Linked DNA regions of Homo sapiens: region 1 is linked to region 2. Evidence: fine-mapped expression QTL. A gene starts in region 2. The other region holds a variant in brackets. All regions are shown on one strand. Distances are from middle to middle. Region 1 has its middle 14 kb from the start of LINC01960. Region 2 holds the start of SP3 (Sp3 transcription factor).

What was found.
Region 1: its variant is fine-mapped to the expression of SP3 in monocytes (Fairfax 2014, PIP 0.95).

The regions. Positions count from the first base shown.
Region 1 is chr2:174,034,386-174,043,966 of GRCh38, forward strand. It overlaps the pseudogene RPSAP24. Among named protein-coding and RNA genes, the nearest start is that of LINC01960, 14 kb to the left of the region's middle. RefSeq lists enhancers at 2,779-3,279, 3,280-3,780, 5,536-5,830 and a silencer at 5,432-5,832. The variant C/T (reference allele first, on the strand shown) is at 5,168.
Region 2 is chr2:173,960,302-173,969,628 of GRCh38, forward strand. SP3 (Sp3 transcription factor) reads right to left here and starts at 5,072. Exons shown (of 7, transcript NM_003111.5): 1 at 4,864-5,072; 2 at 4,104-4,252; 3 at 3,460-3,582. The coding sequence starts at 4,870. RefSeq lists enhancers at 2,763-3,586, 3,587-4,409 and silencers at 3,270-3,519, 3,650-4,139, 4,470-4,749, 5,250-5,319.

The DNA of each region.
Region 1 (9,581 bases), 74 kb after region 2:
AAGTAAAGGTTAAAGTGTACAGAGACAAGAGATGATTCTGAGGGAACACTCACTATTTTAAGAGAGTCTGTGGAGGAGCAGCAACTAGAGAAGGAAGGGGAGACCTGGACAGGGTTGGGTCCTGGATGCCTCTGGGATGCCGGAAGGAGGGTGGCAGAGCCATCATTGTGAGGGGCTGCCACAATGGCACTGGAGGTCCATTTGGCAAATTGAAGCTAAATTAGCAGGGCTCCAACTGAGGTTTGTGGGAGTATTCAAAGGCACCCAAGTAGAGCAGGGATGAGGATGAGAGCTGAAAACTCACCAGCATCCCTCTCCCCAAGCCGGGTACCACTCCCCACCAAGTCCCGTATGAGCCAGAACACAGCAATGGGGTGCAGGTTGGGGGGTAGGCAAACGATAGATGTAGAAGAAGTGTATCAAAGACTTGCCTTTCAAGTTCTTTGGCTGGAAGGAAAGGAGAGTGAAGGTGATGTCTAGAGAAGGAAGCAGAGTTGAACATTTCTCCCTGAACCGAAAGAACCAGCAGACAGGGGAGGATGAACGAATGAACTAGGCACTGCGGTTACCTAGTGACCCAGCAGAAGACTTTCCAACTGAGTCTTCCTTACAAACCACAGAATGTAGAGCTCCATCCTGAACTCCCTACACCTTGCTTCAGTAGGGCCTTCAGGGTTGACAGTTTTTAGTCAGCCCTGCAGAAAGGAGACAGATAATCAGTTTGCTCCTAAATATCACTGGCTCCATTCATCCTGGAATGGCGATATCAGGCACCAAAGCACAGACTGCTGGGACGTGGGGGACCTGGGAGAACCATAGGCAGCACCTTCTGAAACAGAAGAGTCACACACAAGGATGACTCTGAACATTCCCTCTTTCAACAAAGCAATACGGGCTCATTAAATAACATTTGGAAAACACAGGAAAGTTAATTAAAGAAAATATCCCACTCATAGTCCTGTTATCCAAACACTAGTATTACTCATTTTTTAAGATCTTCTGGGGATTTTCTCTGTGTAGGGTTTTTTTTTTTTTTTTAATCTTAGCTGTAGTCATGTCTACAATTTCATATCCTGCTTTTCCTACTTACTATATTGTGTTTTCTTCTGTCATTACTCACTTTAGTTTATTGTAATGAGTGCATAAAATATCATCATGTGAATTTGTCAAAGTTTATTTAACCATTGCCCTAGAGTTGGACATTTAGATTACTTTCAGTGTTTTGATGTTGTCAATTTTTGTTACTATAAATGATATTGCAATGCGTATGTGCACATAAACCATTTTTTGGCATTTAGGGTTATTTCTTTAAGACAGAGTCTCAGAAGTGAAGTTATCGAATTAACAAGTATGAACGCTTCTCAAGAGTTTTACATTCATACTGCCAAATTCCTCCCCAAAGGGCACTATATTAATGTATACTGTGATTAGCAATATGTAAAAATGTTAGCTTTGTGATGGCTTAAACCACACTGGCTAGTATTACTAAAAAAAAATTGTTTTTGCTAATTTAATAGGTAAAAAGTGAGCTTGATTTTTTAATGTAAACTTTGTAGTGAAGTTTATCATGCGTTCAGAAAAGTACACAAATCACGAGTGAATTTTTACAAAGTGAACACCCCTGAGTAATCAGCACCCAGATTAAGAAACAGAACCTTACCCCTAGAGGCCACTATTGTGGCCCCGTTCCCCCTCCTCCACTCCACCCAAGGGTCATCGTTGTTCTGACTTCTCCCACCAGGGGCTAGTTTTGGAAAGTGGCGTTGCTCTAATTTTCATTTCCTGGATTACTAGTGGATCTAACCGCTTGCCACATCTTAGTTGATGAGCTGTAGTTTCTCTTTTGTAAATTGTCTTTTTAAGTTCTTTGTCTCAGAAACTGTTGATTCTTAAGCTATTTCCCAATGTCGAGTTTGGCTAAAGGCGGAGTGTAGTCATCATGACATTGTTTGAAACTGGAGAAACATGTCGTATGTGTGTCTATGTGTGTACGTTTTTTGCTCTCATGATCTTATCCTGACAATGTAGTAGTCCCCCCATCCAAAGTTCCACTTTCCATAGTTTCAGTTACCCATGATCAGCCTTGGTCTGAAAATATTAAATGGAAACACCAGAAATAAACAATTCCTAAGTTTTCAGTTGTATACTGTTCTGGGTGGCATGATTAAATCCCATACTGCCCCACTCTGTCCTGCCAGGACGTGACTCACCCCTTTGTCCAGCATCTTGGTGCCATAGACGCTCCCTGCCCGTGGTTGCTCCGTAGCCCTCTTGGCAGTATCACTATGCCTGTGTTCCAGTAACTCTTACTTCACTTAATTGTTCTATCTTGTTATTAGTTATTGTTGCTAATCTCTTACTGTGTCTAATTTATTAATTAAGCTTTATCATAAGTATGTATATACAGGAAAAAACGTAGCCTATGTAGGGTTCAGTACTATCTGTAGTTTCAGACAAACACTGAGAGTCTTGGGGTGAATTCCCTCCATGAGGGGGGACAGGTGTACTCCTCTTATTTATGCTTCTCCATTGCAAAGCAAGATGGCATCTCTCTAGGCAACACCTGGAAGCCAGGGTAACTTTTTGGTGACAAAGCTGAGCCTAAATAGTCTCTGCTGTACTTCCAGTGTCTGTGAGAATTACAGAAATAGGTCACTGAACCTTTTTAAAAATAGAACTGACACATTTGGGGAAAGCATTTTTTCTGCTGAGATAGCACACAGTACAAGATGAAATGATCCCTAGAGGGTAGATGAATTTAGACATTTGGTATTAAAAATAAATAAATAGTCTTAATGACTCACAGGGAACATAGCACCTTTCATAAGAAAGGTCTCTAAACATTGTTACCTGAACAGACCACAATAAATTTCTAATATACAAGGTACAAGCCATTGCCAGCCCCTGCCCACCTACACCTGGCAACAGCTTTTGATGGGAAGAGAAGGGCCACATTGGCTGTGGGCAGTTCCCTCAGCAATGCCAGATGTCCTGTCTCCCTGGGTTTGCTTGATCCCCTCTTAATTTCCTACACAGCCCACCAGCTCACCCTTGGACAGGCATATGGCTGCATAAGAGGCAAGAAGGGGTAGGGTTACCACACTGCCTGCGAGCATCTCCACTCCAGCTCTTCCAAGGCCTTGACCGCTTTGTGTTAGGGCAGCCCCAGAATCCTTTACCCAACGCTCCCCATGAGCTGTCTGGGACCCCAGATCTGCCTGTGCGGGGCCCTTTTCCACTTCCTCCTGAGCCATCTTCAGAAAGCTCCCTCTGGCTATTGCCCAGCCCCTCTTCACACCCCCTGCTGCCTTCAGGAGCCTCATGAATCCACAGTGGACCTCAGGTCTTCTTAAGAGATTCCTAAGGAACTCCCTCCCCTTCCATGCTGGGCTCTGCTACTGAGAAGAGCAAGGTCTGCCGGCTGGAAGGCAGGACCTCGGGGTACTGCGGGGAAGATGCTTTGATTTAGTCCAAGAATGGCAGGAGAATACCAAGAGGGATTGGCTGTCCCAGAAGTGGGGCGTGAATGGAAGCAAGGGGTGAAGTAGAGCAGGGGCAGGGCCACTCGCCTTTTAGGAAGCGTGGGCAGCAGGGAGAAAGGTATAGGGCTGTCACTACCCAGGTATCAGAGCAGTGGCTCTGGGAATGTGGGAAATAGGAGGGGACAGAGGGACAGGTATAAGACATTCTTCAGAAGTAGAACCCACTGAAGATTTGGTGACATAGAGTTGGCACCAAGGGAAAGACGAGTCACAGATGCCATGCAGCACCTTCTAACAAGAACTCAGCTCCTTTCATGATACAAGTGTCCATTCCATAGGAGTGTACTGAGTGCTTACTTTGTGGCAGATACTGCTGTAGACTCTAGAAATGACATGTAGCTACTACCCAAAGGGAGTTTTAATTCTGTTGGGAGAAAGGCAGGCAATGCAGACAACAAAGTAAACAAATAAAAAAGATGATTTCCCATGGTGACAGATGCTCTTGGAAAATAATTTGGGCCGGGGGAATTGTGGGATCGGGAGGACTTTTCAGAGAAAATGACATTGGAGCTGGATAAAAAGAAGGGGCCAGTCCAGGAGAAGCCAGGGCAACAATATTCTAGGTAAATAAAAGAGCCTCTGCAAAATGCCCCAAGGTAGCATCAACCTTAGCACACTTGAGGAGCAGAAAGAGGACCACTGTGGCATGACAAAAAGAATTTTGCAAGACTAAATTGTTTTCTGACCTCCTGCAGAGCTGCCGTTGAAGCCTTACTAACTTAGAGTTTCACCTCTGGTTTCTAGACACTACAAGCCCTTCCCGTTTCTCTTTTCTCTTTCTCTCCAGACCAGCTACAGCAAGGAGGGAGATCAGTAGCCTTAAGACCCCATGTAGGACTTAAGAAAGGACTGGAACCAGTTCAGTCCTCCCAGAAGCCAAATGGGGAGGGGGTCCTGAGGCCAGTCTGGCTCCCTTTTTCAAGAATGTGGTTCTTAACCACCTTTGAGCTATGAACTCCTATAGCAATCTGATACAAGCTGGGAAAAATTACACACACACATAATTCTGTACACAACCTCAGAGAAAGCACATTGTAGACCTTCTCCTAAGGTCGCTACTTTGGCAGTTCTTTCAAAACCAGTCCATTTTCTCATTAAGGCTGTGTCCCTTTCACAGAAGAGAGGATGTGTGAAAAAAAAAAACACCTTATAAACAGCAAATCAACCTATTAATACAGCCTATAAATACAAATTCTTGTAAGATATAGAATAGATCGGTCGGGGGTGGTGGCTCACGCCTGTAATCACAGCACTTTGGGAGGCCGAGGTGGGTGGATCACGAGTTCAGGAGGCTGAGACCAGCCTAACCAACATGGTGAAATCCCGTCTCTACTAAAAATAAAAAAATTAGCCGGGCGTGGTGGCGGGTGCCTGTAATCCCAGCTACTGAGGAGGCTGAGGCTGGAAAATCGCTTGAACCCAGGAGGCAGGGGTTGCAGTGAGCCGAGATCATGCCATTGCACTCCAGCCTGGGCGACAGAGTGAGACTCCGTCTCGGAAAAAAAAAAAAAAAAAGAAAAAGAAAAGAAAAAGAATAGATCTTCCATAGAGATGCATCCACATATAAAATATAACCATAATAATGGTGGAAATATATTTACACAGTGTTTTTACTTTGCAGCACA[C/T]ATATATCATTTTATCCCATTGAAATCCTTGGCACATGGTTAGGGAAGACATTGTTCCATTTTATAGATGAGGACACTGAGGAAGAGAGGGCTAGGTGGCATGCCTGCAATGACAGGGCCGGGTGGCAGCAGCACTGGGACAGGAACCAAGGTCTTGTCACTCCGAGGCCCAGGCTTCCCAAGAGGCACACGGCAGGGCAATGCCATCTTGACCTCTCTTTGAAGTCTCTCCATGGCCTTACGCAGGACCTGGAGGCGCTCACGGCAAAGGCAGTGTTTGTGCACGCACACTTGGCCCACATCAGCCTCCTGGTGAGAAACAGAGACACAGAGGAAATGATGTTTTCTAACACAGGGAAAGAAGCACAGGGCCTGCCTTCAGAAATCAAGGTTGCGTAGACAGAGGGGAACTTTTTACTAGGGCTTCCTCTTGGCCAATTAAACCTAATGACTCATTTCCTTTTTCTTCTGAAAACAAAACAGCATTTTCTCCTACCGTCCTGAAGGAGGAGAAACCTGGAAGATCGCCACCTAGTGGCCCAGACCATCAAGATCGTGGCTCCTTCTCCCCCTGCTACCCCGCCCCCACTTCATAGGCCACCTTGCCTATTAGAAAACTGGACCCATACCCCTCACCATGCAGCAAGATAATCTCAAATGGATCAGAAATTCAAACGTAAAAAATGAACACAAACAAGTATTAGAAGACACATCGGTGGACTTCTTTATACCCTGGGTGTGGGAAGTCTGTCTATGATTCAAATCCCAGACGCAAACCAAAGGGCCTCTGGGCGCTTGCTCCTCCAGCTAAGACAGGAGTTGGGGGGGAAAGGGGATGTGTGTGCAATCTTCACCTCCATGTGGCATCTGCCCTACCCCATTAGAGCTAAGTGACTGTCCCCAACCTGGGCTCCTGGGATCAAGCGGAGGGAAACAGATAAAAAACAATTAAACTGACTGGGCCCACTGCCCCCTTTGCCTTCTTGGCAGACAGGAAAAGAGGTCTCAAAGCTGTGCCTCACAAAAAGGAAGACACTTAAGATATCAAGGGGCATGGAGCTGGGCACAGTGGCTCCCACCTGCAATCCCAGCACTTTGGAAGGACAGGCAGGAGGATCCTTTGAGTCCAGGAGTTTGAGACCCGCCTGGACAAAATATTGAGACCCTGTCTCTACAAAAAGTAAAATAAAATAATTAAAAATTAGCCAGGTGCAGCACTGCATCCCTGTAGTCTCAGCTACTCTGAAGGCTGAGGCAGGAGAATCATTTGAGCCAGGAGGTCGAGGCTGCAGTGAGCCAAGATCACACCACTGCACTCCAGCCTGGGCCAGAGTGGAAGACCTTGTCTCAAAAAATAAAATAAAATAAAAAAGTAGTTTTTTTTTCAAATAAAAATTTTAAGAGAGGCATGGAAACCCAGTCCAAGCTCAGCCTGACACCAAAATGAATGCTTTGCTAATGAAAAATAAAATACTCCAACGGCATAAAATAAAGTATTAATAAATTCAACAACTTTAAAAAAACCTGCTGCATGGCAAGAAAATTGGCACATTGTGAGAAATATTTGCAACATTTTCACAGAAACAGGTTAATCTGTAATATTAGGAATGTAATGAACTTTTAAATATTGAGGGGAAAAGGCCAAAACTTGATAGAAAATTAGGCAAAAGGCGTGAACAAACAGTTCATACACACAGATACAAAAATATGTAGATGGACCTTAAAATACAGAAAGATGTTCAACTTCACTCATTATGTTATAAATATATATTAGAACTACATTGAGATACCAATCTTTATAAAATTGACAGAATTTCAGAAGTTTGACCATGCAGTCCATTGGCAAGGCTGTAATGATTCTCATAATCATTGGTGGGAATGCAAAATGATACACCCCTGTGGAGGGAATTTGGAAATATCTAGCAAAACTATATATGCAATTTACCCTTTGACTCAGTAATACTAACTCCAGGAATTTATCCTGAAAGTACACTTCTACAAATATAAAACAACGTATTTATAAGGTTGTTCACGGAGACATTACTTAAACAGCAAAATATTAGAAACAATTTCATTCAATTAGGATAGTAATTGAATAAACTGTGATGCAGTCACACAATGGAGTACTACACAGCTGACAAGTGTTGAGGAATATTTCTCTGAATTAACATGTAGTAATTTCCAGGATATGTTAAGTGAAAAAAATTAAAGTACTAAATAATGGATATATTATGCTACGTTTTTTGTATAAGAAAGAGAGATACAGGAAGAATAAACCAAAAACAAGTAGTTGCCTATAGGGGATTGGCAGGAATGGAGTGGAAGTAATAAGGATGTGAGTTTACCCTTTCGTATTAGTCTGTTCTCACGCTGCTAATAAAGACATACCCGAGACTGAGTAATTTGTAAAGGAAAGCGGGTTAATTGATTCATAATTCAGCATGGCTGGGGATGCCTCAGGAAACTTACAATCATGGTGGGAGGGGAAGAAAACACGTCCTTCTTCACATGGTGGCAGGAAGAAGTGCCAAGCAGAAGGGGGAAAAGCCCCTTATAAAACCATCAATCTCGTGAGAACTCACTCACTATCACGAGAACAGCAGCATGGGGGTAACCACCGCCATGATTCAATTACCTCCCATCAGGTCCCTCCTACAACTCACAGGGATTGTGCGAACTACAGTTCGAGATGAGATTTGGGTGAGGACACAGCCAAACCATATCAAATTCTGAGTATAGTTTTTGATATATAGTTATATATAACTACATATATAATTTTATATATACATATATATATAGTTTTGACTTTTGAACCTTGTAAAAGTTTTACATATTTAATTTTTTTTTTTTTTGATGGAGTCTCACTCTGTCACCCAGACTGGAGTGCAGTGGCATGATCTCAGCTCACTGCAACCTCCAACTCCCGGGTTCAAGTGAGTCTCCTGTCTCAGCCTCCTGAGTAGCTGGGATTACAGACGTGTGCCATCATAACTGGCTAATTTTTGTATTTTTAGTAGAGATGGGGTTTTGCCATGTTGGCCAAGCTGGTCTCGAACTCTTCACCTCAGGTGATCCACCCACCTCGGCCTCCCAAAGTGCTGGGAATACAAGTGTGAGCCACCACGCCTGGCCCATATTTAAAATTTTTTAAATTTTGAGAGATTTGTCAAAAAGAAAAGCTTAAAATTAAATGCAAATATAAACAAATGAACTTAACTGCATATAAAATTAATAATAGAACCATACAGGAAAAAAAAAAGGTTGAAATGACCTGTGAATACAGTATTCTGACTACCTACCCTTAACTGGATGTATTCTAAGAACAAATAGTATTACAAAGAAGTCTTGAACTTTTCTTAGGCCTGATGTTGGAAATGGGCTTCTGCACTACCCAGAGAGGGGTCCGTTCTGGCTTGTTCTGGATTCCTGTCTTAATTTAAAGGGAAACGTTCACAATGTCCAGAGCCCTTGATGTCCTGCCAATGAAGGAGGAGGATGTCCTCAAGTTCCTTGCAGCAGGAACCCACTTAGGTGACACTAATTTTGACTTCCAAATGGAACAGTACATCTATAAAATGAAAAGTGATGGCATCTACATCCTAAATCAGAAGAAGACCTGGGAGAAGTTGCTGCTGGCAGCTTGTGCCATTGTTGCCATTGAAAACCCTGCTGATGTCAGTGTCATATCCTCCAGGAAAACTGGCCAGAAAGCCACGCCGTTGTTTGCTGCTGTCACTGGAGCCACTCTTGTTGCTGGCTGCTTTACTCCTAGAACATTCTCTAACCAGATCTCAGCAGCCTTCCGGGAGCCACAGCTTCTGGTGGTTACTGATCCCAGGGCTGACCACCAGCCCCTCACAGAGGCATCTTACATTAACCTACCTACCATTGCTCTGTGTCACAGATTCTCCTCTGCACTATGTGGGCCTTGCCATCCAATGCAACAACAAGGGAGCTCACTCAGGGGGTTTGACATGGTAGATGCTAGCCTGGAAAGTCTTGTACATGCCTGGCACCATCTGTGAATGGGAGGTCATGTCTGATCTCTGCTTCCACAGAGATCCTGAAGAGATTGTAAAGAAGAGCAGGCTGCTGCTAGAAAGGCTGTGACCAAGAGGAATTTCAGGATGAATGGACTGCTGCAGCTCCTGAGTCCACTGCTACTCAGCCTGAGGGCGCAGACTGGTCTAAAGGTGGCAGATGCCCTCTGTGCCTATTCAGCAGCTCCCTACTGAAGACTGGAGCGCTCTGCTTGCCACGGAAGACTAGTCTGCAGCTCCCACTGCTCAGCCACTAAACGTGTAGGAGCAACCACTGAATGGGCTTAAGCTGTTTATCCACAGGCTTTTAAGCACCATGAAAAGAAGGCTGACAGAAATAAACACCAATTTATTTTAAAAAGGAAATGGTAGGC
Region 2 (9,327 bases):
TTGCATAGCATTTGGAAATGATTATTAACTTAGTTCCCACGAATGCCTTTACGAAAGCCAGAAATAGGAAAGGAAGGAGTATAACTGGAAACAAGAACAGGTGTGAAGCTGAGGTGGAAACAAATTAAGAACTTAGGCAAATATTCAAGTTTCTTAAAATCTTCAAAGAGCACTAAAAGAACTCAGACTTCAAATAGAATTACCCTACCCAATGAATTAGTTACAATGACAGCACAGGTCTTATTTTAAATAATGGCAAAATAACTTTTTTGAAGTAAGCTATTACTTATTTTTTAGCTCAACATTTATGTGCCAAATTAAGGAACACTAAATTTACAACCTAAACCAAAGATCAAGCAATCACTTTCATAATAGTCACTTATTTTAGGCCAGGCGCAGTGGCTTACGCCTGTAATCCCAGCACTTTGGGAGGCCAAGGTGGGCAGATCATGAGGTCAGGAGATCGAGACCATCCTGGCTAACACGGTGAAACCCTGTCTCCACTAAAAATACAAAAAAAAAAAATTAGCCGGGCATGGTGGCACACGCCTGTCGTCCCAGTTACTCGGGAGGCTGAGGCAGGAGAATGCTGTGAACCCAGGAAGCAGAGCCTGCAGTGAGCCGAGATCGCGCCACTGCACTCCAGTCTGGGCGACAGAGTGAGACTCTGTCTCAAAAAAATAAAAATAAAAATAAAAGTCACTTATTTTATTCCACTAAAGTAAAAATGAAGTAAATTAATAATCCACAAGTTCACATAAATGCAAACTGGTCAAAGTTAATACTTGCACAAAGGTCTACTTTTTTCTATTTCCTGGTTTACTACTAAAATTAGCCACAACTTAAGTACAAAGGAGCGTTGCTATAAAACCATCTTTCAGAGTCCATGTTGTACGACATTATATACGAGACTGCTTTATGACTAGACTTCTTCAGCAATGTACTGTGGGTAACCAAACACCCTTGGCTAGGATCCTCTTTTATGACAAATTCCAAATTCAAAATCCAAATATTAAAAGCAATCTTCAGCACAGTTGATTGGCTTTTCAAGGCCCTTTTAATCTCAAAATACCAAGCTAAACTGGCATAAAGTTCATCTGTATGTGTATATTTCCACTTGTTTAAACACAACAATATATATGCAATGTGGAATCCTGGACTGGATCCCAGAAGAGAAAATGGACATTAGTGGAAAAGCTGGTGAAACGCAAACAAAGTCTGGTTAGTAATGTCATACCAATGTTCATGTCTTAATTTGGACAAATGTATCATCATTATCCTAACATTAGGGGAAGCTGGATGAAGGGTATGAGATTACTCAGTTCTGTATTTCCAACTTTTCTATAAATTTAAAATTATTCCAAAATACAATTATTTAAAAACACAGCTATAACCTCTCATAATTCCCAGTCATTTGAGTAATAAAAGATTATCTAAGCCCATGAACTCATGTGAATTTCCTTTTCTAAGATGTGCTGAAAAGATGTCTTAAGTTCATATTTGCACTGGAAAAATAAATTTTTAGCAAATTTTCTATTTGCTAAGGCAAATACACACAAGCCAGTCTTACCAATTTTACTCAAAGTGAAAAATCTTGGGTGCAGGTACCAGACATCATAAATATATGGTTTGGGTTTTTTTTTTTTTTTTTTTTTTTTTAGGCAAAACTATTTTCATTTTACTATGATTGGCAAATTATGATGTATTTGATTGATAAATCTCAGATTTATCAGATTGATTCTAGTTCGTCTTCATGTGGCAGAATATGTGTTGTCAGGAGTGATTTGGTAATTCAGAAAAGCAGCTGAAGAAGCATGGAAACTTCCCTACAAGTATATGGCCACAGCTGGCTAAGGTTGGAGACAGTATTCTATCCTTGGGCCTCAGACTCACATATGTATGTACATACACATATTATTCACCCATATTTCCTTCCTTCTCCCCTCCCCCATCTGTAAACTGATATCTAAACTTTACAAATTACAGTTACAAGAAAAGTTTTGTTCCATTTGAAATACAAAAAAGATCAGGAGAAGCAATCTGCTTTTTAATTTTACTTATGCAGTAGTTTTTTAAGATACAGTCAATTTGTTTTGGCACTTTGGAACTAGAGGGATACAGTTCATAAAAAAATCTACCAACTCTCAGCGAAGCTGAAATGAGGTGAACAGAAGGCGTACCAATCCATAAATGTATTTAAAAATAACAAAGCCTAATATAATTTTACATTTTTACATGTTAATCTGCTTATGAAAAAACAAGACATTAAAACTATTCACATCCCCTATAACGAAGCACTAAAATTACAAATTATTTACCAGTAATAGCTTAACATTGGTTTAACTTAAAAAAAAAAAATACCTGGACATACTAAGCATTTGTTGTAGACTATACCAAATACCAAACTTCTGTCTTCAGTGACTATTGAAAGTATCACTCCACAAATCAATTCCTATGATCCACCACACACACACACTCAAATGAGGGTTTTCATTATTTTAATAGGTGAACAAATCTACACAACAGTGATGACCCAAATGTAAAATTCACAATTAACAGTCTAAAAACTGTTCCTATCCTATTGGTATTAACCCCTCATATAACACAGGCGAGCTCCTCCCCTTGCCCAGACACTGAAAACACTACAGAAAGAATCCCACCATATCTTACCTGACTAGCAGTCGTAATAAAATGAAAACATACTTTTGCCAACCAAATTCAGCTATAAGTATTGTACTACTAGTATGCACGTAAATACAATTCCTTACACATACTTTTCTAACACTGTTATATTCAGTTTCAAAATCTAAAGTACTATCTAAGCAACTTGCTGATTTCAAAGGCTGCTAAATGTTTCATTTACCCCCCTTACAAAAAAAAAGTCACTGCAAATTTTAGTAGTCTGCAAAAACTAAAATTCAACGATTTTGAATGGTCAACTAAAAAAGCAGTCTTCACTCCTGCATACAAAAGGGTAATTCAAAGAATAAACCCTCATTTTTTTTAATAATGTATGATTTAAAGCAGTAAGATCCTGTAACGTCCAACAGAAAATGCTCCAGGTTCAAAAATAATAAAAACTAAAGACATTGCCTCTAGTTGATACTATCTATGGCCGATAGGCTGTGCTTGAAAATTTTGTAGTGTTAAGCGAAGGAGTTTTCAGCACTGATATGAATTGCTCAAACATCCATTTTGGAGTCCTCTACCCCCGCCCTCTCAGACTTCATTTTGTGAAGATTTTGCGCGAGGTGCTGCAGTGACAATTTCGAGAAAGCCTGGGCTGGCTTCAGATCCAAACCGGGATGCGAAAGAGCAGGAAAGGGCGCCCTGGAGCCCAGCGGCCCGTGCGGGTCGGGGGAAGCGCGGGCGCCGGGGAGGCCTTTTGGGCAGGCGCGCCACGGGTCCGGGATGGCGGGCGCCCGGCCTCGGCGGGGGCGGGCCGCGCGCGGGACTTACCGCTCCGGCGGCGGCGGGGGCCCCGGCTGCGGCGGCCGCCTCCTCCTCGTCGTCGCCCGGCGATGGCGGCCCTATCTTGCTGCAGGTAGCGGCCAGCAGAGCGAGCGGTGACGGCTGAGTGTCCTACCCCCAATGGGCGGGTTCAGAGAGGGAGACAGGGGGAGGGGGTGGCGGTTAGGGTCGGGCCGCCTTTCGCACAGGAAGTACGACTCGGTCCCCGCCGACTGCGCCCGGGCAAGCGCCAGCCCGCGCTCTCCTCCTCCTCCTCCTCCTCCTCCTGGTCCCGCCGCCAGCCCACGCCTGGCGTCCCCCGCTCCAAGCACCCCGGCTCCCCGGTCCGCGGGCAGGCGGGCGGCGGGCTGCGCGCCGGGCCTCCGCCTTCCGCCCGGAACCCACCCCCGGGAGGGCACGCTGGGGCCCACACTCACACGCGCACAAAAAGGCGGCAGGCGGGCGAGGCGGGGCGGCGCGGGCGGGGTCGGAGCGTTGGCGCCTCGGGCGGGCAGCTCCCGGGGCGGGGGGAGGGGAGTGGAGGGGAGGGGAGAGACGAGGAGGGAGGGGTGAGGCGAGGAGGGAGGGGAGAGGCGAGGGGAGGAGAAAGCGGCGCGAGGGGGGAGCCGGGCCGGGGTTCAGCCGCTCCTCACCTGGGCCGCCGCTGCCGCCGCCACCGCACCGTTTCCGTGCTGTTGCTGCTGCTGCAGATACTCGCCGTGGCCGCCGCCGCCGCCACCGCCGCCGCCGCTATCCACGTCCAAGGCAGCCATTTCCTCTTGTTTCACGGGCTTTTCGGGAGCTGCAGGCACAGCGCGGGGGGGTGGGGGTGGGGAGGAAGGCGGGTGGCGGAGAGGGAGGGGGCCCGCGGGCCGAAGCGAAATTACTCCCAAAGCCCGGACCCAGGCCCCTTCCCCTCCCCCACCCGCCCCCCGGCGGCGGCGGCGGCGGCGGCTCCCTCCTCCCCTCCTGCTGCTGCCCCCGCCCGCCGCTGCCTGTAACCCTCCTCCTCCTCCTCTTTCCCTCCTCCTCCTCCTCCCCGCGCTGCCCCTGCCCCCTCTCCTCTCCTCCCCTTTCCCTTCGCGCCGCTCGCTCTCACTCGCGCTCGCTCCTCTCGCACCGTCAGTCACTCACACACGCCCGCCCGCGCCCGCACACAGGGGGATGCGCTCCCGGCGGACCGGGCCGCCCGCCCCGGGGCCTGGCGGGGAGACGGCGTTGCTGGGGCTTCGGGGGTGGACGGTGGCTGGCGGGGAGGGGAGGGAGGCGCAGGGGAGTGCAGCTTTCTGCCTCTCACAGACACTCGGTCGCACACACGGGGCCGAGACCGGCGGCAGCGGCCCCGGGCTGGCTGTGGTCGGCGGCAGCGGCGGCGGCGGCAGCAGCAAGGGTTGCTCTCTCGGCTTTACGTACCGGTCATAGTGTGTTTAGGGCACCTCAGGCGGGGCTCCCCGCCGCCTTACACATGGTGAGGAGCGAAGGCGGCGGCGGCGGGAGAGGATGCGGGAAGCGGCGGCGGACACGGCCGGAGCGGTCCGGGGATTTTTTTTTCCTATTTTGATTGACTGTGCGGGAAACACAAAAGGTGGAGCCTCCAGCCCAAAAGGGGGGAAGAGGGTGACAGCCCGCCCGGAACTCCCGCCCCTCTTCTTGGCTCTCATTCGCCGCCGTGCTCTTTGTCGGCTGTGCTCATTGGTCCAGGCGCCTGTCCGTCGGTCTGCCAGGCGGCGCGCTTCCTGTTTGCCCCCGGGTGGAAGGGGAGAGACAATGAGCGGCCGTGGCAGCGTAGGTTTTCGAGAGCGGCTACGGCTCGCCGGTTACCCCGCTGTGCCCGCCTCCCTCGCCGGCTGCCGCTGCCAGGCCCGAGGCGCAGGCCTCCTCCACCTTGCAGGCGCTCGGAGCAGGCCTAGCCAAGCTGTAGGGGAGCTGAGCTGGGGAGGAAATTCGTCCCCGGTGACTCCTGCTCCACTGGACGCTTCCTCCATCCCGGCAGCAGTCTTGGCCGGATCTCCCCAGGGCCTCGCGCTCTTGGAGCCGCCGCTTCCCTGCGCTGCCAGGAGGCCACCGCTGCTCAGCCCCGGGGCTGCTGCTGCGGCCGCTGCCGCTACTGAGCAAACCAGACCCGCCCCACGAGCCCGGGGGGAGGGAGCTGGTATTAGGGGAGACACCCCCTCCGAGGCTGGAGGAGGATTTTTCTCTCTCACATCCAGCTTCCTGATTCAGTCACAGCCATCTCGCTCCCAGCCCCCTTAGCCCCAGTTTTCCAACCGGTCTCCCACTTTCACGTACCCTGAAGGCAGGCATTTAAAGCAAAAAAGAAATCTCAAGTCACCTCACATACGGAAGGAGAGTTTTAATTTTGGCCAGTGGCACCAAAACGGGCACTTAAAAGTATATTTCATTTTACTTGTGGTATGTGTATGTATTCAGTGGGGCAGAATTCTGTGTTTTAAAAAATCGGTCACATAACCATTTTGCTGCACAAACGTATTATTCCCGGCCTCTTTATCCTCTTGGTACCAAGTCAGATATCTCCTGAAATAAGCCCATCAACCACTGCCAACGTTTTTTAAAGTCGTGAACCGGTGAACTACCTTTTTTCCCCCATTGGAACATTTTTGTTGTATTTTAAAATCTTGTTTCTCTTACTGGATTAGGTTAACACTCCTTCCTTCTTTGGCATCCTTGGTATCTTGCTGTCATCCTGGGGGAAAATGCTCAGGTTTTAAGTGTGTGTTTTGCCAACTAAGAGACATCTCTCCCTGTTACCTTCAAGTATAGTTGCCAAGAAAGAAGTTAAATTCAAGAGGTGGAAACACTGTCCACAATACCTGTTTTTTAGAAATCTGGCTCAAGATTCAGTTTTCCCATTACTGTGATTATTATATTTTGTGTGATATGTGATGTGCTGGTGGATGAGGTTGTGAAGTCCAAGCACTTTAACCAGATTTTGTGTGTCCTAACTTAATAGGTAATCCATTTGTGAGATACTGAGTTTACATCCCAGTTCCAAAGCACTTAACCGCCTATGCTGACAGGATCAGAAACATTGTATGGTTACTTTGCTCTTAATTGTACAAAGATCAAATTTCCAGGGAATTAACCTAAAAACCACAAACATGCGGAAACGAGACTCAAAATTCTGAGTCCAAGAATAGGGTTCATCTCTTCTAATAGTCCTTGTAGTCTCATATTTAAGTGGAAAAGTCACTTTCAAAGTTGAGTCGTATAACCTATGTACTATTTTACAACAAAAACTTTTAAGGAAATAAAAGTCACAAAATAACCTGATTTGGGGTGGGGAAAATGGAAAAAGAGATGGGTGCCTTGAAGAGCGGGACAGGTGAAAATAAGTGGACTGGGAGGGAGGAAGGGAAGTCACTATTATCACTCTGTTCCTACCCGGATCTCTTGGGTGGAAGGTAGCTCTTTCCCTAGAAAGGATATTTCAGGCATTTTCAGTTTTGTTTTGTTTTTTTTTTCAGGAGTGGGGATATGTTCTACGCTATCGCCATACCCTTTTTGCAAAGTGTTAGTCCAGCCACCTTGAGAGCAAAGTACTTGGCCACAGGAGTTAAATTCGTTTCTTCATTGATACCAATTGGCAAATGATATGAGACATGAATTGTCTTTTTTCTTTCTTTTTTGGGGGGTGGGGACGGCACGTCCGCAGACCATTTTGACAAGCAAAAAAAACACTTCTGAAAAAGAAAAAAATAGCCTAGCTGAGCGTGGTGGCTCACACCTGTAATCCCAGCACTTTGGGAGGCCAAGGCAGGCAGATCACTTGAGGTCAGAAGTTCGAGACCAGCCTGATTGCCATGGTGAAACCCCATCTCTACTTGAAATACAAAAATTAGCCAGGCTTGGTGGCGCACACGTGTAATCCCAGCTACTCAGGAGACTGAGACGGGAGAATCACTTGAACCTGGGAGGTGGAGGTTGCAGTGAGCCGAGATGGCACCACTGCGCTCCAGCAAGACTGAGACTGTCCCAAAAAAAAAAACCTACCTGAACTAACTATACTGCTTTTGATGCGATGCTTTTAAGAGATACATATGGAGGTAGGGTGACAGAGGTTGGTTAATTGGTACAAACATACAGTTAGATAGAAGGAATAAGTTCTAGTGTTCAATAGCACAGTAGGGTGACTATAGTAAATAGCAATATATTTTATATTCCAAAATAACTGGAAGGGAAGATTTGAAATGTTCCCAACACAAGAAATGACAAATGTTCAAGGTGACAGGGGAGAGGGGGCGGAAAAAAAATGTCCAAAGTGATAGATACCCTAAACACTCTGATTTGATCATTACAACACTGTATGCATGTATCAAAATACCACATGTACCCCATAAATATGTACAAATATGTATCCGTTTTTTAAATTTTTTAACAAAAGATGCATATACCAAAAGCATCACTCACTACTTTAGTCAGATTCAGAGAACCCTCTTAGACCACACTTGAGTTATTGTCATGGAATAGCTTTTTAAAATGGCTGGAAATGAAGATAGTCTCTTGAAAGAACACCTTTTCCTACCTATTTCAGTATTGTAGTCAAATCTTGAAATACAAATTTTTTTTTTCAATGGCATGGTCTCGGCTCACTGCAACCTCCGCCTCCCGGCTTCAAGTGATTCTCCTGCCTCAGCCTCCCCAGTAGCTGGGATCACGTAGCGCCCGCCAGCATGCCTGGCTAAGTTTTGTATTTTTAGTAAAGACAGGGTTTCACCATGTTGGCCAGGCTGGTCTTGAACTGCCGACCTTGTGATCCGCCCGCCTCTGCCTCCTAAAGTGCTGGGATTACAGGCATGAGCCCGGCCGAAATACAATTTAATTAAAATACTTATTTTCTTATTAGAAAGCTGCCTCTCAATGGCACCTACTGCTACATTTACATAGTAACCCAAAATTGCAGTTGCTTAGCAGGGAGAGAATCACAGTGCTGGATATTATTTATACTTTTTCTTCCAAAACGATTTGAGGAAGTACTGTGCTGGCCATTGTTTACATCATATTAGGAGATCTGGATGTCACTTTCTTTTCCCATATCCTCGATTTCCTCACTTTTTAAAATGTCATGTGTTTTTGTAAGTTTTCTTAAATCCTTTGGAAATGTGATGACGGTGAAAAATCCCTGAAGGCTTCTATACACCTGTTGGCATGGAATATTTTGCAACCCGTTTCTTCCCTACAAACAGAAGAGACAACTAAATACGGTTTGATCTACATCTGCAAGAGCCTAGCCATTCAGTATTAAAAAGTGATGGCCCTGGTTGACGGTACCACACCTGAAGACCTATGCCCTTTCCTTCACACTCCCTACTTCTGCATTTCTTCCCTCCTGAACGTCTATCAAGTGGACCATATGAAATTGCCAGTATTCAACTGTTTTTTATCTTAAAAGGTGACAATTCTATATCATTCAACCTAAATTAATGTCTCAAGAACATAACCTTTGTTTCTATTATTGTGACCTTACTTTTAACCATCCTAGAGCTCTTTAACCTGTTCACACTGGATTTCAAGGATCTTAAGTTGTTCTACTACATAATCACTATCACACTTCAGAAACATTTTAGTTTACATTAAATACACTTAACCCCCTCATATTTCATCTCTTCCTTTCTCAAAAATAGTAATAAATAACCTCAAGCCATTAAAGTGTGATGTCCTTAAATGAGGAGCAACAACCTTCAGCATGGAGTGTATTCATACTTTATGATTCAATTAGATAATAGAATTTGTTTATTTTCTTTGGTCATATAAACCAGACATAAACAACAACTAATCTCAAAAGAGTCAATGATACCCAAAGCCTAGTTAGAGAAGGTAAGAGAAAGGGGAAAAAAAAAATGATGTGGTTAGGAGAAG